Regions from separate parts of the Homo sapiens genome. Here all the other regions are linked to region 1. The links come from fine-mapping of genetic effects on gene expression. A gene starts in region 1. Each other region holds a variant in brackets. All regions are shown on one strand. Distances are between the middles of the regions.

Region 1 (4,000 bases):
TCCTTTAAGGGAGATTTTCTCCGTTTATCAGGAGCAATACCCTGCAGTATTAGAAATCACTATTTCTGACCGGGTGCAGTGGCTCACACCTGTAATCCCAGCACTTTGGGAGGCCGAGGCGGGCGGATAGCCTGAGGTCAGGAGTTCAAGACCAGCCTGGCCAACATGGTGAAACCCGGTCTCTACTAAAAATACAAAAATTAGCTAGGCATGGTAGCGGTTGCCTGTAGTCCCAGCTACTCAGGAGGCTGAGGCAGGAGAATCACTTGAACCTGGAAGCGGAGGTTGCAGTGAGCCGAGATGGCACCCCTACACTCCAACCTGGGCGAAAGAGCGAGACTCCGTCTCAGAAAACAAAAAAAAAGAAAAAAAGAAAAGAAAAAAATCACTATTTCTAATATCATTAGCCTTAAAAACTCAATAAACTTGCAAAGGCAAGAGTTCCTGCAGGCAGGGCCGCGCGTGGTGGCTCACGCCTGTAATCCCAGCACTTTGGGAGGCCAAGGCGGGCGGGTTACTTGAGCTCAGGAGTTCGAGACCATCCTGGCCAAAACGGTGAAACCCCCGTCTTTACCCCAAAAAAAAAAAAAAATTAGCCGGGTGTGGTGGCGTGCGCCTGTAATCACAGCTACTCAGGAGGCTGAGACAGGAGAATCGCTTGAACTCGGGAGGCGGAGGTCGCAGTGAGCCGAGATCGTGCCGTTGCACTCCAGCCCGGGCGACAGAGCGAGAATCCGTCTCAAAAAAAAAAAAAAAAAAAAGTTCCTGAAGGGAAAAGAGGCCCCTTGGGAGTATTCTCCAACCTCACCCAAACTATTCAACGGTAGGAATTCTCAACCTTTTAAGAATGGTAACGATGTCATTTTTCAACACTTTCTCTCTTCTCTGCCGTCCGCTTCAGAAATTAAAGTCATTCCCTTCCCCCAGTTCCAAGCCACTCACGAGGTGCCAGCTTGCAAAACCGGGGCGTTGGCACGAGTCTGGTAAATGCATGAAGCCCCCACAGTCCCCAGAATCTGAGGATGGCACCCAAGGCCTGCATTCTCCTAGCGTCGTCCTCTCTAAGCGCACAATTCCTTTCCCCAAAACCACCAGAACCCCCAGCCCTCGCCAAAGACAATCAAAGCCTAGAAAGGGTTCTCTTTCCTTTCCTTCTGATTCAGAAACCGCTTCTCACCCGCACCACCTCCCCACCTCCACTTTCCCTTCTGCCGCGAGCCCCCGGCCCTCCGTCCACCCGCCGCGGCCTCCCCAGCGCCCGGAGCTGCCGTCTCCCCTCCCGCACTCCCGTTTCCCCTCCTGAGGGGCGGAACGCTTACCTGCTCGATGGCCAGCTGCACCTCGGGCGTGAGCTGCAGCACGGCTTCCAGCTCCTCCACGAACTCCAGTTCCTCCTCCTCCATCATTCCGCCACCCGGCCCCCTGCCGACCCCCGCCGCGAGCCCAACTCAGGCCTCCAGCCGCCACCCAGGCCCCAGCACAGCAACTCCCTCGCGGCAGCGACCTGGTGAGCCCGGCTCCGTCAGCCGCTCTGTCAGCCGCTCCGGCACTTCCGGCAGGCCAGGGCACTTCCGGGACCGGGGAACTGTGGGATCACGGCGGACTGAGACTGGCGGCGTTCCTGTCACGTCAGGTGTCTCCCGGGCAACGCAGTATCCCGGCGGCCCCGCGTGGCCTCAGCGCGTCCTTAGGATGGGCGGGGCCTCTTCCCTCCCCAAGGCGCGCCCCGCACTGAGGACCCCGAGGTTGGGGTAGGGTCTGGCCTCCAGCAGGACGCCCGGATGAAAGTCAGCCCTGCGGCGTCGCCAACCGCAGCCCACAGCCTCCGCGGGCAGCGCAGCGGCGACCTCTCAGCTCCCGGGGCCCCCTCGGTCAGTGGCAGCGGGTGTCCCCGGCCACGGGGGCGACGTGATCCCAGCTGGCGAGTGGCGATGTCGCCAAGGACATTCGTAGGACGGGACAGTGCCCACTCGATAGAAATTCCCCGTGCGCCGGGCTCTGCGCAGAAGCTTTTCGAGGTGACTGCAGCCTCCTTATGGGGAGAAACGTCTTTTTTTTTTTTTTTTTTTTTTTTGAGACGGAGTCTTACTTGTTGCCCAGGCTGGAGTGCAACGGCGCGATCTCGGCTCACTGCAACCCCGCCTGCTGGGTTCAAGCGATTCTCCTGTCTCAGCCTCCCGAGTAGCTGGGATTACAGGCGCCCGCCACCACGCCCAGCTAATTTTTGTATTTTTAGTGGAGACGAGGTTTCACCATGTTGGCCAGGCTGGTCTCGAACTCTTGACCTCGTGATCCGCCCGCCTCGGCCTCCCAAAGTGCTGGGATGACAGGCGTGAGCTACTGCGCCCGGCCAGAAACGTTTTTTTAAAGCCAGATGACGCAGCGCCCTGGAGCTGGGGAGACGTTTACTGAGGTTGAATATCCGGGATCTAAGTCCTGAATAGTCCACCATTGATAAGTTGTGTGACTTGGAACAAATTACTACCCCGCGTCGATGTGGAGAGGATTAAACATTAACAGCGCGATGTAAATTCAAGCTGGTAATACAGGAAATAGTGAGGTGCCCAGCCCTTACCCCCACAAAGGAACAAATAAGCCAGATCACCGATCACCCTGTGAAACCACCTTTCCTGCAGACACTGAAAAGAAGGAGGGAATTGCAGCCCAAGGAGGACCCGCTCCACCAGGTGAACCGGGAAACTCCAGGAGGGAAACGCGTTGGCCCCACTGAACTTTTTTTTGTTGTTGTTATCAGAGTTGCTCAAAGTAAAAAATAGGAGCAGTATGATTTTTTCTTTTATTTTTAATTGACAAATAATAATTATATAAACAATGTAATTTCTAACAACAAAGGAATGCTAAAAAATATACATTAAAAAAAGAAAAAAAAGACAAAATAAAATATACATTGAACCTGGTGCAGTGGCACAGGCCTGCAGCCCCAGCTACTCAGGAGGCTGAGGCAGGGAATTATTGACTTTCTGAGATTGAATATCAGGGGTCTAGATCTCATCCCACCACTGAGGATCGCTTGAGCCCAGGAGTTTGAGGCTGCAGTGAGGAATGATTCCTTTGCGCCACTGCACTCCAGCCTGGGCCACAAAGGGAGACTCTGTCTCTTAAGTAAACATAGAATATTATTGATTCATAAAATCATGATTTTGAAAATTAATGACATGAAAAATATGCACAATATATTTCAGAAAGCAAAATGTATAATTTCATTTAAAAAATGCATAGCATGGTCCCAGCTTTGTGTGTATTCTGTGCCAATAAAGCTCACAGCAAGGAAATATTACTTTTCTGCACGTGATGAATGTACATCCTTTGTACATTTTCCCAAATGTCTACAATGAGCCTGTAGTTCTCTCATGCTCAGAAAATATGAATGCCTTTTTCTAAAAGGAAAAGGTAATTATAGCTACTTATTTTGGACTTTTTTTTTCCTTTAAAAAATTAAGATATTTACATACAGTAAAATTTACTCTTGCAATTTATGATGCAGTGAGTTTTGATAAATGTGTATAAACGACTGGGCATGGTGACTCACGCCTATAATCCCAGCACGTGGGGAGGCCGAGGCTGCCAGATCACTTGAGGTCAGGGGTTCGAGACCAGCCTGGCCAACATGGTAAAACCCGTCTCTATCTACTAAAAATACAAAACGTAGCTGGCCGTGGTGGTGCACAGAATCACTTGAACCCGAGAGGTGGAGGTTGCAGTGAGCCAAGATTGCACCATTGCACTCCAGCCTGGGTGACAGAGCAAGACTCCATCTCAAAACAAACAAACAAATAATAAGAAAACAATAATAAAACAAAATAAATAAATGTATATAACCATGTAACTACTACCACAATCTAGTTATAGGACAATTTCATTCCCCCAAATTCCCTCTTGCCTCACCCCATCCACTGGCAACCACTGACTTGATTTCTGTCCCTATAGTTTTTGTTTTTGTTTTTGTTTTTTTGAGACGGAGTCTCGCTCTATCACCCAG
Region 2 (4,175 bases), 560 kb before region 1:
GTGAGCTGTACTTGAGGGAGATGAGGATGCGGCCCCGCTCCTCCAGGGACTTGTCTTCAGTCTTGTCCACCTGTTGGACGGGACGGTCACTCAGTCCTCACCTGCTCCCACCCCTCTCTTGGCCGTCCTTGGCCTCCTCTTCCTGAGCCCGCCCATCCGGCTGCTGCAGCCGGGCCTGGTCACGGTCCCTGGTGAGTGGCCTCACTGTGAACTCACAGCCCTTCTGTCATCTCTTCCCTCCCAAGGGCTCTTCCAGGGCTGGATCTGACCCACACCCTCCCTGTTCTTGGCTGCATGTGGCCTACGGTGGCCTTCACAGCCCAGCAAGGGCCAGCCCAGGGGTTGGCAACTGCAGCCCGGGGGCCAGATCAGGCCCGACGCCTGGCTCTGTGTGGGATGTGAGCTAAGCATGGCTCTTACCCTTATCTTAAACAATTTCTTTTTCAAAAAAATAGAGACAGGGGTCTCACTATTTTGCCCAGGCTGATCTCAAACTCCTGGGCTCAAGGGATCTTCCCACCTTGGCCTCCCAAAGTGCTGGGATTACAGACATGAGCCACCGTGCCCAGCTGGTTCTTACTTTTTGGAATGGCAGAAAGAAAAATGAAATGAAAAATATTTTGTGACACATGAAAATGACATGAAATTCACACTTCAGCTTCCATTAACACCGTGTTGTTGGAACGCAGCCTTGCCAGCTCCGTGATGCTTCTCTATGGCTGCTTTTGCCCTAAGGACAGAGCTGCATGGTGGCCACAGATTGCGAGGCACACAGAGCCTAACATTAGCGCTAAGCGGCCCTTCACGGGTCTGCAGCCCCCGGCCTGGCGCGCTCGGCTTCCGCGGACGGTCTTCCACCAGGTCCTCCTCACAGCCCGCCCGGACTTTCCCTTGGCTTTGAAGCCGGGTCCCACCTCCACACCTTTGCGCACCCTTAATCCACAGCTCCAGCACCCTCCTCTGACCTCCTCAGTGTTCACCGTTGATAAATTCCTGGTCCTTCTGGGCCTGGGGGGCTTTTCTGACCCTCAGGGTGGGTTGGCCGTCCCCTCTGCGCGCCCACTGCCTCGGGTTTATCCTGTCATGGCCTGGTGTGGCCCCCTGCTTCCTCAGGGCTCTGCCCCAGCCTCTAAGTTCCTTGAAGTTGGAACTCTACCTGTAAATTTTGATTTTGACAGAGTCTGACTCTTGTCACCCAGGCTGGAGTGCAGTGGCATGATCTTGGCTCACTACAACCTCTGCCTCCCGGGTTTAAGCGATTCTCCTGCCTCAGCCTTCTGAGTAGCTGGGACTACAGTCTAATTTTTCTATTTTTTGGTAGAGACAGGGTTTTGCCATGTCTGCCAGGCTGGTCTCGAATTCCTGACCTCAAGTGATCCACCCACCTCAGCCTCCTGAAGTGCTGGGATTACAGGTATGAGCCACCGCATCCAGATAATACCTGCGTCATCTTTAATACCTCAGGGCTGGGCAAGGCCCTGGCACTAAGGGCCCACTGGAGGCTTGTACTAGTGAAGGCAGGAATGGAGGGACAGATGGTCCCCTGTGCGTTCAACCTCATACAAGCAACTCCAGCCTGGAGGTTCAAAGAAAGGCAGAAAGGTCTGCCCATGACAATGGAGCCTGGTGGATGGAAAAGGGTCACCGTGGCCCCAGTTCCCTGAAGGTGCTACCTGGAGCCTCTCAGGGTGCTGGATGTGGCTCCCTCAGGAGAACCCCGAAGACAGAGTTCTGGTACATTCCTCACCCTGGAGAAGCTGGGAGCCAAGTAGGGAGCCCATCCAGTGCCTTCCCTGCCTCAGCAGCTGCCAGTGCCTGCCTCTCAAGGCAGATCTCAGCTCCAGGCCTCCCCATCCCCAGCCAGCCTGATGCTTCTCCATTCCTTGCCCTCCCGAGACTACCCGGCTTCTTCCTTCTGGCTGCTGCACACCCCAAACCCTCTCTCCTAGGCCCTCAGCCCCCCCAGACAAACCCAGCTTGAGCCCACCCACACACGCCCAGCTTGAGCCCTGTGTCCCCCTGGATCCCCTTAGGACTCTACCAGGCTCCTCTCCCAAGCAGCCCCAGCCACCTCCTTTTGCCCACAACCGTGCCCTGCCTAACACCAAAGTGAGTCCCTCTGGCTACATCTAACCCTTTCTGGAGATGAGACTCCTGTGAGGTGAGCAGGGATGTTGAGCAGGGAAGACATACATGCCCCACCAGCCACCTTCGCCACCTCCCACGCCCAGAGCAGACATGGCTAATCGATCCTAGCATTTGCCCTAGGCTCCAATGCCACCTCAGAATCCTTTTCAACACAGTGCTCAGGCAGCCATTCCTGGTGGATCAGGCCAGGCCTGCGAGATCTCGCTATCTGCCGCTCAGGCAGAGCTTTGTGTGTGAGGGCCTTGATGCCCTGTGCTGCTTGTGTCAGTGTGTGTGGTGTGAAAATTAAACAATATAAAC[T/C]AGCAGGGGCCAGGCACAGTGACTCATGCCTGTAACCCCAGCACTTTGGGAGGCCAAGGCGGGCAGATCACCTGAGGTCAGCAGCTCAGGACCAGCCTGGCCAACATGGTGAAACCCCATCTCTACTAAAAATACAAAAATTAGCCGGGTGTGGTGGCGCATGCCTGTAATCCCAGCTATTGGGAGGCTGAGGCAGAAGAATCACTTGAACCCGGGAGGCGGAGGTTGAAGTAAGCCGACATTGCGCCACTGCACTCCAGCCTGGGCGACATAGACTCCATCTCATAAAAAAAAAAAAAAAACAACCAACCAGCAGGCATATTTTTAGCTCTTTTTTCAGGGGTGGGACATTGTACTTCGGGTTGTTTCATATGAAGACCACTGGGTCTTGCTCAGTATTGACTTAAAACAGATAATGTTCGCAGACTGTAAATTCTAAAACCTACCGCCAGAGGCCTGGCACAGGGGCTCATGCCTGTAATCCCAGCACTTTGGGAGGCCGAGGCAGGAGGATCACTGGAGGTCAGGAGTTTGAGACTTGCCTGGCCAACATGGCGAACCCCCGTCTCTACTAAAAATACCAAAATTAGCCAGGCGTGGTGGCGCACACCTGTAATCCCAGCACTTTGGGAGGCTGAGGCAGGTGGATCATTCAAGGTCAGGAGTTTGAGACACCTGGACAATATGGTGAAACCCCATCTCTACCAAATATACAAAAATTAACCAGGCGTGGCGGCACACGCCTGTAGTCCCAGCTACTCGGGAGGCTGAGGCATGAGAATTGTTTGAACTCAGGAGGTAGAGGTTGCAGTGAACAGAGATTTTGCCACTGAACTCCAGCCTGGATGACAGAGCAAGACTCAGTCTCAAAAAATAATAATAATAAAAGTACCACCAGAATGTGGCTGTACTGTCAGGGGTGCATCCCCAGCTGCACTCCTGCGGTCACTGTGAGTCCCTGAACGGCACCAATGGGCCGGTAGCGCATCCAGCAACGCCCTGATCATGGCCACGCACAGGGACGCACATGCTTTCACGAACGCACACCACACATGTGGACACACACACTGTCGCACACAGACACGTACTGACATATGCTCTTACACACAATTCACACACGAGCACACACACACACACGCTGACACCCCACGTACATACCCACGTGGTTGTTTGTTTATGCCAGTGATGAAAACTCAGGAACACTAAGGCAGGGCTGGTGTTGCTTTTTTTTTTTTTTTTTGAGACAGAGTCTTGCTCTTGCTCTTGTCACCCAGGCTGGAGTGCAACGGTGCAATCTCGGCTCACTGCAACCTCCGCCTCTCAGGTTCAAGCGATTCTCCTGCCTCAGCCTCCTGAGTAGCTGGGATTACAGGCATGCACCCCCACACCCGGCTAATTTTTTTATTTTTAGCAGAGACGGGGTTTCGCCATGTTGGCCAGGCTCTCTCGAACTCTTGACCTCATGACCCACCTGCCTTGGCCTCCTAAGATGTTGCCTTTCTTAAGTGACATAGACCATGTGGAAAAACCGGGTTACCTGTGGTTAGTGACTAACAATAAAACAGGAAAGGTTATATCCATCACACAAATGTCTGAGGGGGAGAGAATGTGACAAGGAATAAAATTGGATCAAATTCTGCAAAAGTAACTGGGATTCTGGGAAGAAGCCGTGGCCTCAGGCTGACTCGCCCCCGGGGCTTGACTTGGGCTAAGCTCGAGGTGAGTCC
Region 3 (4,145 bases), 210 kb before region 1:
TGACCTTCCAGAGAAGGGTCAAGACAGATGTGAGTCAGGCTAGAAGGGCATCGGTGACCTTCCAGAGAAGGGTCAAGACAGATGTGAGTCAGGCTAGAAGGGCATCGGTGACCTTTGAGAGCAGGGTCAGGACAGTGGTTGAGATGGAAGCTGACTTTCTAGAAGGGCATCGGTGACCTTGGAGAGCAGGGTCAGGACAGTGGTTGAGATGGAAGCTGACTTTGTAGAAGAGCATTGGTGACCTTCGAGAGCAGGGTCAGGACAGCGGTTGAGATGGAAGCTGACTTTCTAGAAGAGCACCGGTGACCCTCGAGAGCAGGGTCAGGACAGTGGTTGAGATGGAAGCTGACTTTCTAGAAGAGCACCGGTGACCTTCGAGATCAGGGTCAGGACAGCGGTTGAGATGGAAGCTGACTTTGTAGAAGAGCATTGATGACCTTCGAGATCAGGGTCAGGGCAGTGGTTGAGATGGAAGCTGACTTTCTAGAAGAGCACCGGTGACCCTCGAGAGCAAGGTCAGGACAGCGGTTGAGATGGAAGCTGACTTTGTAGAAGAGCATTGGTGACCTTCGAGATCAGGGTCAGGACAGCGGTTGAGATGGAAGCTGACTTTCTAGAAGAGCACCGGTGACCCTCGAGAGCGGGGTCAGGACAGTGGTTGAGATGGAAGCTGACTTTGTAGAAGAGCATTGGTGACCTTCGAGATCAGGGTCAGGACAGCGGTTGAGATAGAAGCTGACTTTCTAGAAGAGCATTGGTGACCTTCGAGAGCAGGGTCAGGACAGCGGTTGAGATGGAAGCTGACTTTCTAGAAGAGCACCGGTGACCCTCGAGAGCGGGGTCAGGACAGTGGTTGAGATGGAAGCTGACTTTGTAGAAGAGCATTGGTGACCTTCGAGATCAGGGTCAGGACAGCGGTTGAGATGGAAGCTGACTTTCTAGAAGAGCATTGGTGACCTTCGAGAGCAGGGTCAGGACAGCGGTTGAGATGGAAGCTGACTTTCTAGAAGAGCACCGGTGACCCTCAAGAGCGGGGTCAGGACAGTGGTTGAGATGGAAGCTGACTTTGTAGAAGAGCATTGGTGACCTTCAAGATCAGGGTCAGGACAGCGGTTGAGATGGAAGCTGACTTTCTAGAAGAGCACCGGTGACCCTCAAGAGCGGGGTCAGGACAGTGGTTGAGATGGAAGCTGACTTTGTAGAAGAGCATTGGTGACCTTCGAGATCAGGGTCAGGACAGCGGTTGAGATGGAAGCTGACTTTCTAGAAGAGCATTGGTGACCTTCGAGAGCAGGGTCAGGACAGCGGTTGAGATGGAAGCTGACTTTCTAGAAGAGCATTGGTGACCTTCGAGAGCAGGGTCAGGACGGTGGTTGAGATGGAAGCTGACTTTCTAGAAGAGCATTGGTGACCTTCGAGAGCAGGGTCAGGACAGCGGTTGAGATGGAAGCTGACTTTCTAGAAGAGCACCGGTGACCTTTGAGAGCGGGGTCAGGACAGTGGTTGAGATGGAAGCTGACTTTGTAGAAGAGCATTGGTGACCTTCGAGAGCAGGGTCAGGACAGTGGTTGAGATGGAAGCTGACTTTCTAGAAGAGCACCGGTGACCCTCAAGAGCGGGGTCAGGACAGTGGTTGAGATGGAAGCTGACTTTCTAGAAGAGCACCGGTGACCCTCAAGAGCGGGGTCAGGACAGTGGTTGAGATGGAAGCTGACTTTGTAGAAGAGCATTGGTGACCTTCAAGATCAGGGTCAGGACAGCGGTTGAGATGGAAGCTGACTTTCTAGAAGAGCACCGGTGACCCTCAAGAGCGGGGTCAGGACAGTGGTTGAGATGGAAGCTGACTTTGTAGAAGAGCATTGGTGACCTTCGAGATCAGGGTCAGGACAGCGGTTGAGATGGAAGCTGACTTTCTAGAAGAGCATTGGTGACCTTCGAGAGCAGGGTCAGGACAGCGGTTGAGATGGAAGCTGACTTTCTAGAAGAGCATTGGTGACCTTCGAGAGCAGGGTCAGGACGGTGGTTGAGATGGAAGCTGACTTTCTAGAAGAGCATTGGTGACCTTCGAAAGCAGGGTCAGGACAGCGGTTGAGATGGAAGCTGACTTTCTAGAAGAGCACCGGTGACCTTTGAGAGCGGGGTCAGGACAGTGGTTGAGATGGAAGCTGACTTTGTAGAAGAGCATTGGTGACCTTCGAGAGCAGGGTCAGGACAGTGGTTGAGATGGAAGCTGACTTTCTAGAAGAGCACCGGTGACCCTCAAGAGCGGGGTCAGGACAGTGGTTGAGATGGAAGCTGACTTTCTAGAAGAGCACCGGTGACCCTCAAGAGCGGGGTCAGGACAGTGCTTGAGATGGAAGCTGACTTGCTCGGCAGGAATGCATGTGGGGATGGGGGCAGTGGACT[C/A]CCTTGACGCACTAACAAAACCGACAGGCTGTGGGGGGGAGTGGCATCAGGAAAAGCAGGGGGACCCCTGTTCACTTCTGCAAGCAGAGGGTGAAAGGGGACAGTCTCTGAAGACCTGGGTGGGGCAAAGGACAGACCCCAGGACTGGACAGCTAGGGAAAGTGGTGTGGTGAGTTGAGAGCAGGATATTGAGAGTGGCATGTACACAAGTGGCTTAGCTTTTGCCGCTCCTCTTCTATGGCGGGGAGTAAGCCAGTGATTAAACCTCTTGAGATCTCAGCATCCCATCTACAAATGGAGGGACTTTGACAAAGTTCCCAACACGGAAACAAACACACCACCCAACCCCGATGCTCTAATTCCAACCTTCATGCCCCAATTCTGAGTTTCCCAACTGGAATGCTGGGGCCACCGCAAAGGTATCCAGCAAATGGCCAGATACTGATCCCTTTAGCCTTGGGGCTGTGGAGGGAGGGAGGTGTCCCCAGGCCCATCACTTCCGGCCCCAGCAGCCTCTTCTGTTGAGGGAAGAGGAGTTACTCATGTCGTCACTTCTGTTTCAAGTCCTGAAAAGGTCGGGAAGCATTGCCTACACAGTCATGCGAGGTCTCAAGCACAAGATTTGGGGCTTTTGGAAGGATTGGGTTCTTCTGATCGCCCACCTCCCTCTGACCAAGCCCCTTCTCCATCCCAGTGACACTGCTTTGTTCTTAGTACTGTCTCCCTTGCACCAGGGGTTACTCAGAGGGTTCTCAGATGTTCTTTCCAAAGGCCACAAGGCCTCGTCTCAGTTGTGCCCCACAGCCTTATGGGTCGAGCATCCGAAATACAAAATGCTCCAAAATCCAAAATATTTTGAGTGCTGACATGACACCCAAAGGAAGTGCTCACTGAAGCGATTTGGATTTGGGATTTTCCAATTAGGGATGCTGAAGTGGCATGTACATAATACACATATTCCAAAATCAAAAAAAAGCTGAACTCCAAAACACTCCTGGGCCCAAGCATCTCAGATTAGGGATGCTCAACCTGTATTTGCACAGAATTTGGGAGAGAGTTTAGGTGCTATTGTTGAATGGGTGGCTACCTCAAGTCAAACGGTGCCCTTTCCTGTACTAGGTGACAGTGCCAAGCCTGACCTCCCCTCTAAGGTCAGAAAAACAATGAGCAACGTGCGTCAATGAGGGCAGCAGCTTCCAAACAGACACCTGGGGAAACCTGGAAATCTTCAGTGATGTTTTGGTGGAGTGAGAACCTCTACAAAGGTTTGATTCTAACTTCACTTTTAAAATGCATTTAGTTTTAGTTCTAAAAACTAAACATTAAAAATGGTAATAACGCAACGCGCATCCTCAAATGTCTTCTGGGGGCAAATGTAAGATGTCGGAGGCCCTTGCTTCTGTTAACCTCTTTCTCCAAGGGCTGTTCACGGCCATGAAGACTTCAGGAGACAAGGAGCCTGTTACCATCTCTGTTTAATTGAAGAGCCTCTACCATTGCAAGAAGAGCTGTTTAAAACAAAACAAAATGGATACTATTTGAAAATTCTTAGCTGGATTAAATCAAGATTTCTCTATTCTGTGCAACCCAGAAGTAAACTGGGGTTGATACACACACATTTTCATCCATAACCTTGGTTTAAAGTGCTTCCTATTTGCTGGAATAGTTTTCAATGCTTTTACTGATTTCTTCTGAAAAATATTTGAACTCATAAAATGTATTCATAAAATACTTTTATC
Region 4 (4,000 bases), 190 kb before region 1:
GTGTACAATTCAGTGGTTTTTAAGGTCTATTCACAAGGTTGTACAGCTGTCAGCATTATCTGGTTTCAGAACACATTATCACCCCAGAAAGAAACCCTTACCCATTAGCAGCCATTCCCATCTCCCCCTCCCTCAGCCTTTGCCAACCATTAATCCACTTTCTGTTTTACGGATTTGCCTGTTCTGGACATTTCACAGAAGCAGAGTCACACAATAGGTGGCTTTTTGTGTCTGGCTTCTTTCACTTAACATGGTTTCAAGGCTCTTCCATGTTGTAGCATGAATGGGTACTTTATTCCTTTTAATGGCTGAGTAATATTCCCTTGTATGGATAGACCACATTTTGTTTATCATCAGCTGATGGACATTTGAGTTGTTTCTACTTTCTGGCTATTATAAATGGTGCTGCTATGAATATTTGTGTACAAGCTTTTGTGTGAACACATTTTTTTTTCAATTCTTTTTTTTTTTTTTTTTTTTGAGACAGAGTCTCACCCTGTCACCCAGCCTGAAGGTACAGTGGCGCAATCTTGGCTCACTGCAATCTCTGCCTCCCAGGTTCAAGTGATTCTCCTGCCTCAGCTTCCCGAGTAGCTGGAGTTACAGGTGCACACCACCATGTACAGCTAATTTTTGTATTTTTAGTAGAAGTGGGTTTTCACCATGTTGGCCAGGCTGGTCTCGAACTCCTGACCTCAGGTGATCTGCCTGCCTCAGCCTCCCAAAGTGCTGGGATTACAGGTGTGAACCATGCACCCTGCCTTTTTCAATTCATTTGGGTATATATCTAGGAGTATAATTGCTGGGCCCTGTGGTAACTCTATGTAAATGCCAAACTGTTTTCCAAAATGGCTGTACCGTTTTGCATTACCACCAGCAATGTATGAGTGTTCTAATTTCACCAAATCCTCTTTGGAATTGATTTTTATATATGGTGTGTGGCAAAGGTCAAGATTTTTTTCCGATATGGATATCCAATTACCCAGCACTATTTACTGAAAAGACTCTCTTTGAATGATGCCACTTTGGTCATAAATCAAGTATCTACACATGTGTGGGTCTATCCCTCAGCTCAGATCTGTTCTGTTGGCCTCTTTGTCCCTGGGGCCAGTGCCACACTGCTCTAATTACAATACTGCTGCAATAAGTCTTGATATCCTGAGCTTTAACTCCTCCAATTCTGTTCTAAGATTATTTTGGCTGTTGTCTTCTGTATTTTCATCTAACTTTTAAAATCAGCATATCAATTCACACACACACACTCACACACACACACACACACACACACCCCTGCTGGGATTCTACTGTATCTATAGATAAATTGATACAGTAATTAGGATTGAATTCTATCTATAGATTAATTTTGGAATAATTTGCCGCTTTTTAAATTGTTATTTATTTTTTATTGGGCAGCCTCCTCAGCCAGAGCAGGCTCAGAAAGACTCCATATGTATTTCTTTTTGAGTCTTTCTTATCAATGAACATGAGCTATCCTGTCATTTTAAAGGTCTTTATGGATTCTGTGTCTTAATATTGTACAGTTTTCTGTGTAGAAGACTTGTACATTTTTAATTTACTCCTAGGTATTTAATGTTTCCTGATGTTATTGTAAATGATTTCATTTAGGCCTGGGAGCCATGGCTCACGCCTGTAATCGCACCACTTTGGGAGGCTGAGGAGGGTGGAGTTTGAGACCAGCCTGGGAGACACAGGGAGGCAGACCCTATATCTACCAAAAAAAAAAAAAAAGAGCCAGCCAGGCATGGTAGTACATTCCTGTAGTCCCAGATACTTGAGAAGTTGAGGCAGGAGGATGGCTTGAGCCCACGAATTGAGACTGCAGTGAGCTATGATTGTGCCACTGTACTCACTCCAGCCTGGGCAATACAGCAAAAAAAAAAAGTATTTCACTCAAAAATGTTCATTTTTAAATTGTTTGCTGCTGGTATATAGAAATATATTTTAAAACACTTTCCTTATAGCCAGCAACCTTGCTAAATTTATATT[CT/C]TTTTTTTTTTTTTTTTTTGAGACGGAGTCTCTATCACTCAGGCTGGAGTGCAGTGGCGCAATCTCAGCTCACTGCAACCTCCCAGGTTCAAGCAGTTCTCCCAGGTTCAAGCAATTCTCCTGCCTCAGCCTCTCGAGCAGCTGGGATTACAGGCGCACCACACCTTGCCCAGCTAATTTTTGTATTTTTAGTAGAGACGGGGGTTTCACTGTGTTGGTCAGGCTGGTCTTTAACTCTTGACCTTGTGATCCGCCCGCCTCGGCCTCCCAAAGTGTTGGGATTAAGGGTGTAAGCCACTGCACCCGGCCTGCTAAATTTATATTCTAACAGTTTATCTGTAGATCCTTTTAGATTTATTACTCATAATCATATTTTCCATGAAAAATGACAGCTTAGTTTCCTCCTTTCTAATCTGTATATATTTTGTTTCTTTTAAAAATATTGTATTTTTTGCCTTGTTGTCCTAGCCAGGACTTCAACAACAACGTGGGATAGAAATGGTGACAGCGGACATTCTCCTCTTATCCTTAATCTCAAGGGAAAGAAAAGCTTTCATAGGTGAACGCAGTCATAAGAATAATTAGTGACCCTGCAAAACAGGATGATCTGAAGATCATAAACTAGCAAGAAGCATGATCAATATTGGTGTGGGTCAGTTCCACGTGCCCTTGCAATTGCTCGAGGACTCTGGGGCCCAAAGATAAAGAACTCACTTTATATAGTACTCAGAGAACAAAGAGCAGAAAAATGTCTCCCATCCCATTTTCAGCATAAGTATTAAAGCAAAACCTAATTTAGGATCTGGCACCCTTGTGGCAAGGCAGACACAGCTGAGGTTGGGCTAAATCTTAGCTTCCAATGCCATAGCTTTTGTTCAAGTTTGGATGGCAGCTGCTCCACTACTGGAGGCAGCGTCTGTTTCAGTCTATGAACACTGCTGAGTTAACTTGATTCTGATGGTTCTGCTGCCTGAGTGAACACGCCTGCAGCTACATGGCTGCTTGAGTTTCAAGGCCCAGACATCAGGGCAAGTACAGGCCCAGCCAAACCTCAACTCATGTGAGAATCGTTCAGGGGCCACGTTGCCCTGTAGTTCCCACCCACACCCTCCCCATTCTGGGCCTGTCAAGATCCACACTCCCCTACTGCCCACCTGAACTGGCCTGGGGTCTGATTAAGTAAAACTCCAGTTCCAGCAGATGGTTTTCTCATCCACACCTCAAAACGGAAGTAAACATAGGATGTTGGCTGTGGGTTTGTTAAAAAATAATAACAATAATGGATGTAAGCACTGGATGAACTGATATTTTTCTGAAGATATTGGCTTTGGGTCTGAGCTTACTATAATCATTAAAAGACTCTTTTTTTTTTTGTGGGGCAGATGGTGTCTTACTCTGTTGCCCAGGCTTCAGTGCAGCGGCACGATCATAGCTCACTTCAGCCTGGATTCAAAGAATCCTCCGACTTCAGCCTCCTCCTGAGCAGCTGGGACTACAGGTGTGGACCGTTTTTTAGCTAATGTTTTATTTTTTTTGAGAGATAGGGTTGCACTATGTTGCCCAGGCTGGTCTTGAACTCCTGGCCTCTAGTGATCCTCCCATCTCAGCCTCCCATCACTGGGATTTATTCTTTTTTTTTTTTTTTTTTTTTGAGATGGAGTCTCACTCTGTTGCCCAGGCTGGAGAGCAGTGGCGTGATCTGAGCTCACTGCAACCTCCACCTCCACCTGCAAGTGATTCTCCTGTCTCAGCCTCCCAAGTAGCTGGGATTACAGGCATGCACCACCACGCCTGGCTAATTGTTTTTTTTTTTTTTTTTTTTTTGAGATGGAGTTTCGCTCTTGTTGCCCAGGCTGGAGTACAGTGGTGTGATCTCAGCTCACTGCAACCTCCACCTCCTGGGTTGAAGCAATTCTGCCTCAGCCTCCCGAGTAGCTGGGATTACAGGCGCCCACCATCACGCCCGGCTAATTTTTTGTATTATTAGTAGAG
Region 5 (4,000 bases), 190 kb before region 1:
TTAATCTGAGTAAAGCCTTACCTACCCTGGATGTTATTTATTGTTCCCATTTTACAGATGAGAAAAAGTTCCAGAGGATTAACAGCTCACCAAACTCATCTCATGCAACGGACGGGGTTAGACAAAAGTTGGACGGGAAGCTGGAATTCATTTCCGGTTGCCAGGTAACGGGGTTAGAGAAAAGGTGGACTGGAAGCTGGAATTCCATTTCCGGTTGCCCAGGTAACGGGGTTAGACAAAAGGTGGAAGGGAAGCTGGAATTCCATTTCCGGTTGCCCAGGTAAATGTCCCTGGGTGGTTTTGGTGACGAGCTCACACTGACTCCTGCTGACTGCCCTGCTCTGCTGCCGCCGCTGCTCTTGGCAACCAGGGAGCAGAGAAATGGCTGAAGACAGAAGGGTGTACTCTGGCCTGTTGAGATGGCTTAGGAGAATGGAACCACATGGTCACCAAGCAGACAACGGCAGCAGTGGGGTGACAGCTCCCAATGCCACCACTCAACTCCGGTGATAACGGCCAAACTTATATTCAGGGCAAGGCCTGTACTCTCTGCCACTGCCTGCTTCTTTGGGAAAGCCTTCTGTAATCCTATCAGGTAGGTGAGAAATGGGACCCTTCAGGCCCTGCGACACTTTGCATCCTCCAATTTCCTATTTACTTTGCTTTGGACAGAAGAATTAATGATTAAAGAGAAACTAAGTAACGACAGATACTATGAACTTAAGGGTTATGGCAATTGTAATTTTAACAATGGTAGAAACATGGGGAAGACGTCAGTGTTTTATGTGGAATAATTTAGGTGTGGTAAGGAATTACACTAAGGTCAGAGCAATTTCATGCAGCTAGTCAAAGGCCTGCACCACGCAGGTCATTCAACTGTAGCCAGCAAAGTGCAGGGCATTTTGGACCTTTCTGGATTTCTAGAGATAGAAATTCTTACTATCCTAGTGTCTGCTTTGTTGAAAAGGCCAAGGGCTCAGAGAAAAGGGTATGCAAACCTCCAGGAGGGGGAATGGCACTGATTGCTCAAGGCCCACGTGAAGAGCCTGGCGTTAGCGCACTTTCCAGAATTCCAGTGGAAATGACTGCTGCTTTTCCTCGGAGGAACCCAGAACAAGCCTCTAAAGCATTCTAGGTGGATTAAATTCTTAGATATAAAAAAGAAAAACTTTAAGAAGAAAATACAGGGCGCAGTGGCTCATGCCTGTAATCCCAGCATTTTGGGAGGCCGAGGCGGGTGGATCATCTGAGGTCAGGAGTTCGAGACCAGCCTGGCCAACATGGAGAAACCCCATCTCTACTAAAAATACAAAAATTAGCCGGGTGTGGTGGCGCATGCCTGTAATCCCAGCTACTCGGGAGGCTGAGGCAGGAGAATTGCTTGAACCTGGGAGGTTTGCGCTACAGCCTGGGTGACAGAACAAGACACTGTCTCAAAAAAATAAATACATAAAAAATAAAAAATAAAAAAGAAGAAGAAGAAGAAAATACAGAGATTATTTTCATTGCTTATGGGTGGAGAAGAATGTCAAACATCAGAAAGAATGAACCACCTACCCTAAAATGAAAGGCATCTATATCAGAAGAAACAAACAAAGTAAAAGACAAGACATAAATCAGGAGAAGATACGTGCAACGTTGACAAGGGAACGGGGTTCCGAACATGAAGATTCCTACACATCAACAGGAAAAGCACAAACTATCCCAACAGCGACACAACAACAGGCAAACAATACTAACACCGGATTCACAAAAGAGGAAACTCAAATGCCCGAAAGGCATATGAAATGACACGCAACCTGGTTAGTAACTGGGAAATGCAAATTAAAACCACAGATGTACACCATAATACATCCATCAGAGTCAGAAGTAAACAGATTATTTGATAATCAAGTGTGGGCACGGCCATGGCACTGAAATTCACAAATGTACACC[G/A]TAATACACCCATCAGAGTCAGAAGTAAACAGGTTGATAATCTAGTGTGGGCACGGCCACACTGAAATTCAGACTAGTGGTGACAGTAGAAGTTAGTTCAAGCACGTTGGGGGAAATTTAGCAACATTTCCTTAGCTGGAGATGTGTATCACCCATAACACAGCATTAATACTTATATCCATTAGAGGAATTCTTGCCCATGTAAAAACGTTCCCTGCATCCGCTATTTATAAAAGCAAAAGTTTGGAAACAACCTACACGTCCATTGACAGTGGAATGAATAAACAAATGACAGCACATTCGTGCAATGGAATATGCTGCTGAGGTGAAAATGAATGGGTGCACACAGCATGCATTAACATGCATAAATCTCAGAAAATAGTAAGTTGGGCAAAAAAAAGCAAGTGGGGAAATGATATGTCTAATGCCATTTATATAGTTTTAAAATATGCAAAACAAAATCATATATCATTTGTGAATATATACACATATATCAAAACACATATGAGAATAAAATCAAAATCAGGACAGTGTTTACTTTGGGGCATGGAGGAAGAGATGGGCAGGGTGGGGTTCATGGGGGCGGTCTTCAGCAATAACTGTAATGATTTACTTTACATAAAAATGATCTAAAGCAGGCAGGGTGTGGCAGCTCATGCCTGTAATCCCAGCATTTTGGGAGGCTGAGGCAGAAGGATCACTTGAGGCTACGAATTCAAGATTACCCTGGGCAACACAGTGAGACCTTGTCTCTACAAAAACAAAAATAATAAGATTAGACAGGCACAGTGGCACACACTTGTAGTCTCAGCTACTTAGGAGGCTGAGGTGGGAAGATGGCTTAAGCCCAGGAATTCCAGGTTGCAGTGAGCTATGATGGCACCATTGCACCCCAGCCTGGGAGACAGAGTGGGACCCTGTCTCTTAAGAAAAGAAAAAAAAAATGGGCCAGGCGCGGTGTCTCATGCCTGCAATCCCAGAACTTTGGGAGGCTGAGGTGGGAGGATCACTTAAGGTCAGGAATTTGAGACCAGCCTGGCCAACATGGTGAGACCCCATCTCTACTAAAATACAAAAATTAGCCAGATATGGTGGTGCACACCTGTAATCCCAGCTACTCGGGAGGCTGAGGCAGGAGAATTGCTTGAACTCGGGAGGTGAAGGTTGCAGTGAGCCGAGATCGCGCCATTGTACTCCAGACTGGGCAACACGGTGAGACATTTTCTCAAAAAAAAAAAAAAAAAAAAAAAAGATGTAAAGTAAATGTGGAAACATGTTACATATTTTGCTGAGCTGAGTAGTTAGTTACTGTTTTTTACATTATTTTCTGTACATTAATTAACTGGAATTTTTGTTTAAAGACTACCATTCAGGACTCAACTCTGTCTTCCATGTAGCAAATTTTGAGAGCCTTGTCAAAATCAAAGCCATGTCTTAGCATTCATTTGTTGGTAGGAAAAAAAAAATCAGTCATTATATTTTAAAGCATATGGAGATATTTCCTACTTTTCTACTTCCCAGAGATACATTATATGCATAAATAATTGTACAGTCTTAAATGACAGGAAGGGTTTGAATGCACCAGGCATAATTCTCTAGTGTCCCTCATATACAGGGAGATATGACACTTTCATTCCCTGGCCAGTCACCATAAAATTCTGTCTTTACCAGACACTGAGAGGTGAAAACCCTGGTCTCAGGTTTTATACATAAAGCAAGGCAGTCAGAAAAGGCGGGAATGAGCCTGACAGATTTGGCGGCTGTCTGTGCAAAGACAAGACAGAAAGGTCCCATTTATCATGAAAATCTGCTAGTTTTCAACTTTGAAATAGTTGATAATTCATCTTCTTAGGCATGAGACATTGGGCAAGGGGTGGCTATTGCCACATTCATTTCTGCCTCAGCGATAATTTCTGGGGCAGTGTGGGCTGGCTAATGTTGTTGATGGGATGTGGGGGTGCAAGGGTGGCCAGTATGCCATGCCTGTGAAGGCTGATCACCCAGCAATGGAAATCTTTGAGAGGGGCCCTTTACTTCCCGAGGAGCCTCCTACAATTCTTGGGGA
Region 6 (4,000 bases), 160 kb before region 1:
TTAGAGATCACAATAAAGGTGCTAAGAATGTATTACTTTTGTAATCAATAAAAACAATTTTCACTAAATAAAAAATAATTGGCCACTTGTATCATCAGTCATCAAAATGGTCTTCAACTTATTTCTAGAACTTCTAAGAGTCTGTTCTAGAAAACTAATGCAAAACATTTAAGATGCTATATTCAGAAAGACATTCTTTGTAAGGATTATCTTTTTTTTTTTTTTTTTTTTTAGAGACAGGGTCTCACTCTGTCACCCAGGCTGGAGTGCAGTGGTGTGATCATAGCTCACTGCAGCTTTGACCTCCCAGGCTCAAGCGATCCTCCAACCTCAGCTTCCCAAGTAGCTGAGACCACAGGCATGTACCACCACACTCAACTAACTTTTAAATTTTTTGTAAAGACCAGGTCTCACTATGTTACCCAGGCTGGTCTTGGACTATTGGCCTCAAGCGATCCTTCCACCTTGGCTTCCCAATATGCTAGGATTACAGGCGTGAGCCACTGTACCCTGCCAGGATTATCTATAAAAGCAAAATTTTGGCTGGGCATGGTGGCTCACGCCTATAATCCCAGCACTTTGGAAGGCCAAGGTGAGTGGATCACGAGGTCAGGAGATTGAGACCATCCTGGCTAACACAGTGAAACCCCGTCTCTACTAAAAATACAAAAAATTAGCTGTGTGTGGTAGCGGGTGCCTGTAGTCCCAGCTACTCACAGTGGCTCACGTCTGTAATCCCAGCACTTTGGGAGGCCAAGACGGGCAGATCACAAGATCAGGAGATCGAGACTATCCTGGCTAACACAGTGAAACCCGGCCTCTACTAAAAATAAAAAAAAATTAGCCAGGCGTGGTGATGGGAACCCGTAGTCCCAGCTACTCGCGAGGCTGAGGCAGGAGAATGGCGAGAACCCGGCAGGGGGAGCTTGCAGTGAGCCGAGATCGTGCCACTGCACTCCAGCCTGGGTGACAGAGAGAGACTCTGTTTCAAAAAAAAAGCAAAATTTGAAGCACTATAAACAACGATCAGGGATGCTTGCTAAATAAGTTATGGTACAAGGCCGGGCACAGGGGCTCACACCTGTAATCCCAGCACTTTGGGAGGCCAAGGCAGGTGGATCACAAGGTCAAGAGTTGGAGATCAGCCTGGCCAAGATGGTGAAACCCCATCTCTACTAAAAAAAAAAAAAAAATACAAAAATTAGCCGGGGATGGTGATGGGCATCTATAATCCCAGCTACTCAGGAGGCTGAGGCAGAAGAATTGCTTGAACCTGGGAGGTGGAGGCTGCAATGAGCCAAGATCATGGCCACTGCACTCCAGCCTGGAAGACAGAGCAAGACTCTGTCTCAAAATAAATAAATAAATAAATAATTTATGGTATAGTCCCTTAAAGAGAAATATTATGTGGCCATAAACAATGATAGTAATAATGACCCTGTAATGATAGTTATGATTATTACTATCATTATAATGACAGGAGAAATGCTAATGCTATGTATGACACTAACAATAAAAGGATATAACAGTGAATTAAGATTGTAACATTCAAAACTATGTCTATGAATAACAATTGAAAAAATACCCCAAATTGCTAATATGATTATTTGAGGATGATGGGATTAAAAGGGATCTTTATTTTTTTAAATACTACGGTTATTTTACCTTTAAAATAGCATATTTACATGTATCGTATTTCTTTCTGTGCACACCCAAAATAGTTAAACAGTGTTTCTTCATGAAAGAACTCTGGAACCCCTGCCTTGGAGGTCCTTACAGATAGTGCCATCTTACCTGGGGAGTGGCCTGGGGCTAAACGGACTGCTCTGTGGCTCCAAGGCCAAACCCTGGAAGGTCATGACCTTCGCAACTCAACATGACCAGGTCCCCAGGCAGAGTGTGCTGCTGCCTCTGCCTCTGGCTGGCTTATGTGCCACTGAGGGGCCTTGGTAGACACACTTCCTATTTGACCTGCTATATTGCTGCCCTGGCACACAGGAGCTCCAAGCTGGGCTGTCTGAACTATCATTTATGACTGTCTTCTTGTGGTCTAGGCATCTGTAAATTATAAATACAAAGTGGGTAGAAGAGCAGAACCTTTCCAAATTACTTTCTTTCTCTTGGCCTCAGGGGAATCCCAGACCAAGTGTGAAAAGGA[C/T]TTCTAATTCCATGTTTAAGGCTGAATCAAAGGTTATTCTGGGTCTTCCTTCTGCTCCATCAGTTGCTGAACTATGGCCATGTGGGGGCCTCCAGCAGAGGCATCACCCTTTCCTGTCCCCCAGTTCCTAAACGTCAGCATCCCAAACAATGGCTATTTGTTGAGGCAGATTGAAAATGCCATGTAAATTTCAGAAGACACATAAAAGCCCAAAGGATTCTGCTTAACTTAGTAACACTTCTGAGCATGGAATAACTGGCTGTGACTCATCATCACCAAAGGCTGGGTCCTAGCACAGACAAGCTTGTTACTGCTTTTCTCATATGGGTTGGAGTGCTACTGACCTACTTTTAACAGGTCATGCCCTTTGAGGAGCTTACACAACTCCAGGGAGGTGACCAGTCATACTTTCTTGCCCAGTCTTCTTTTAACAAGGCCTTTCTGTAAGACAGCTGCCTGGGCAGCCTTATGGCTGGACACTGAGCTTTCCTCTGTGGCAGGCCAACTGGTCTGACCCAAGGTTGTCTGTGGCCATGTTAGGACGTATATTCTTACTCGCCGAGCGACGCAGCCCAGAGGGTTCAGGAAAAGGAGGTGGTGAGTGGGCAGCCAGGATGGCTCACCTGCTGGGTGGTGGCCAGACAGTACTCTGCCGTGCTCAGGATGTTACAGATGAGGCAGAGCTCCTCCAGAGTGAACTTGGCTACTTCTGAGCCCTCCTTTTCCTTGAGGAGGCTGCTGATAGTCAGTCCTCCACTGCTGGTTGTGGTTCTGAAGAAAAGGAACAGGAACAAGTCAGCATGGAATTTCTAATTTGCTTCCTGAACTGGAAACTACATTATTTTAAGATACAGAAAAGGGGGAAGTAAAGGCTGGACATGGCCCAAATCAATTCACATACAATGAGTCCTTTTCCTACTGACCTTACCTTGACACCGTCAGAAATAGGAAGAGATGATTCCTATTTTAGTTAATCTGAATCATCAGCAGGCCATTAGTCACATTAACTAGGATGGTCTAATATCCAAAGGGAAGGCTGCTGAGCTGTCCTCTCTTTAGCTTGGAATCTCCTGATGTGCAGAACTCATTTAGGACCGTGTGGAGCACGAAAGATGGTTACCTACCCTGTTTCTTTCAGTTAAGAAAAGTCTGCACTGGGACTCATGTGTGCTGGTGGAGGAGGACATAAGCGCATGTTAAGAGAAGTCTGCACTGGAACTCATGTGTGTTTGTGGAGGAGGACATAAGTGAATGTTAAGAAAAGTCTGCACTGGGACTCGTGTGTGCTGGTGGAGGAGGATATAAGCGAATGTTAAGAGAAGTCTGCAAGGGGACTCATGTGTGCTTGTGGAGGAGGACATAAGCGAATGTTAAGACATGCTTCCTGCCCAAGGCCCTAAGTGTCTCAAGAGGCCAACACCCATCACACATCCTCCTGTGACTACAGGTTTTGGGGCAGCCCCAGCTACTGAGTGAGTTCTATGGTAGTAACCACTACCCACTCATATCTGGATGCTTTGGAATCCTCTGTTGGCTCCTTTCACCTTGCCCCCACTTCTGTGAACAGTCTCTCTACTGACATAATCCCAGCTGAGTATGCCATTTTTTTCTGCTGAGATGCTGACTAATACACGTGGGAAAATGCTCCCACGATGAAGTTAAACGGTAGCTGCAGGGAATAAAGCTATAAGCAGTATAGCCCCAATTCCGTGACACAAACAAACAAAAGCACACAGATCACACACATTAGGTATCTATCAAGAACGGAAAAATATATACAAAAAGTTACGTTCTCTTTGGGTAGTGGGATTATACATAATTTATTTATTTATTTATTTATTT

Evidence for each region.
Region 2: its variant is fine-mapped to the expression of VPS53 in fibroblasts (GTEx, PIP 0.90).
Region 3: its variant is fine-mapped to the expression of VPS53 in sun-exposed skin (GTEx, PIP 0.96). The same link has a PIP of 0.9 or more in spleen.
Region 4: its variant is fine-mapped to the expression of VPS53 in Th17 cells (Schmiedel 2018, PIP 0.95).
Region 5: its variant is fine-mapped to the expression of VPS53 in whole blood (TOPMed, PIP above 0.99).
Region 6: its variant is fine-mapped to the expression of VPS53 in whole blood (INTERVAL, PIP above 0.99).

What each region holds. Positions count from the first base shown.
Region 1 is chr17:713,304-717,303 of GRCh38, forward strand. VPS53 (VPS53 subunit of GARP complex) reads right to left here and starts at 1,536. Exons shown (of 22, transcript NM_001128159.3): 1 at 1,320-1,536. The coding sequence starts at 1,406. RefSeq lists an enhancer at 2,008-2,077.
Region 2 is chr17:156,308-160,482 of GRCh38, forward strand. It overlaps DOC2B (double C2 domain beta), which reads right to left. Exons shown (of 9, transcript NM_003585.5): 6 at 1-70. Among named protein-coding and RNA genes, the nearest start is that of SCGB1C2, 21 kb to the left of the region's middle. The variant T/C (reference allele first, on the strand shown) is at 2,449.
Region 3 is chr17:504,805-508,949 of GRCh38, forward strand. It overlaps VPS53 (VPS53 subunit of GARP complex), which reads right to left. Exons shown (of 22, transcript NM_001128159.3): 22 at 3,864-4,145. Among named protein-coding and RNA genes, the nearest start is that of VPS53-AS1, 16 kb to the right of the region's middle. The variant C/A (reference allele first, on the strand shown) is at 2,407.
Region 4 is chr17:528,136-532,135 of GRCh38, forward strand. All of the region lies in intron 19 of VPS53 (VPS53 subunit of GARP complex), which reads right to left. The region is part of intron 1 of VPS53-AS1 (VPS53 antisense RNA 1); the gene reads left to right. Among named protein-coding and RNA genes, the nearest start is that of VPS53-AS1, 7.4 kb to the left of the region's middle. The variant CT/C (reference allele first, on the strand shown) is at 2,008.
Region 5 is chr17:522,835-526,834 of GRCh38, forward strand. All of the region lies in intron 19 of VPS53 (VPS53 subunit of GARP complex), which reads right to left. VPS53-AS1 (VPS53 antisense RNA 1) reads left to right here. Exons shown (of 3, transcript XR_007065570.1): 1 at 1-595. Among named protein-coding and RNA genes, the nearest start is that of VPS53-AS1, 2.1 kb to the left of the region's middle. The variant G/A (reference allele first, on the strand shown) is at 1,936.
Region 6 is chr17:557,645-561,644 of GRCh38, forward strand. It overlaps VPS53 (VPS53 subunit of GARP complex), which reads right to left. Exons shown (of 22, transcript NM_001128159.3): 15 at 2,782-2,929. Among named protein-coding and RNA genes, the nearest start is that of VPS53-AS1, 37 kb to the left of the region's middle. RefSeq lists an enhancer at 2,357-3,556 and a silencer at 3,572-3,621. The variant C/T (reference allele first, on the strand shown) is at 2,159.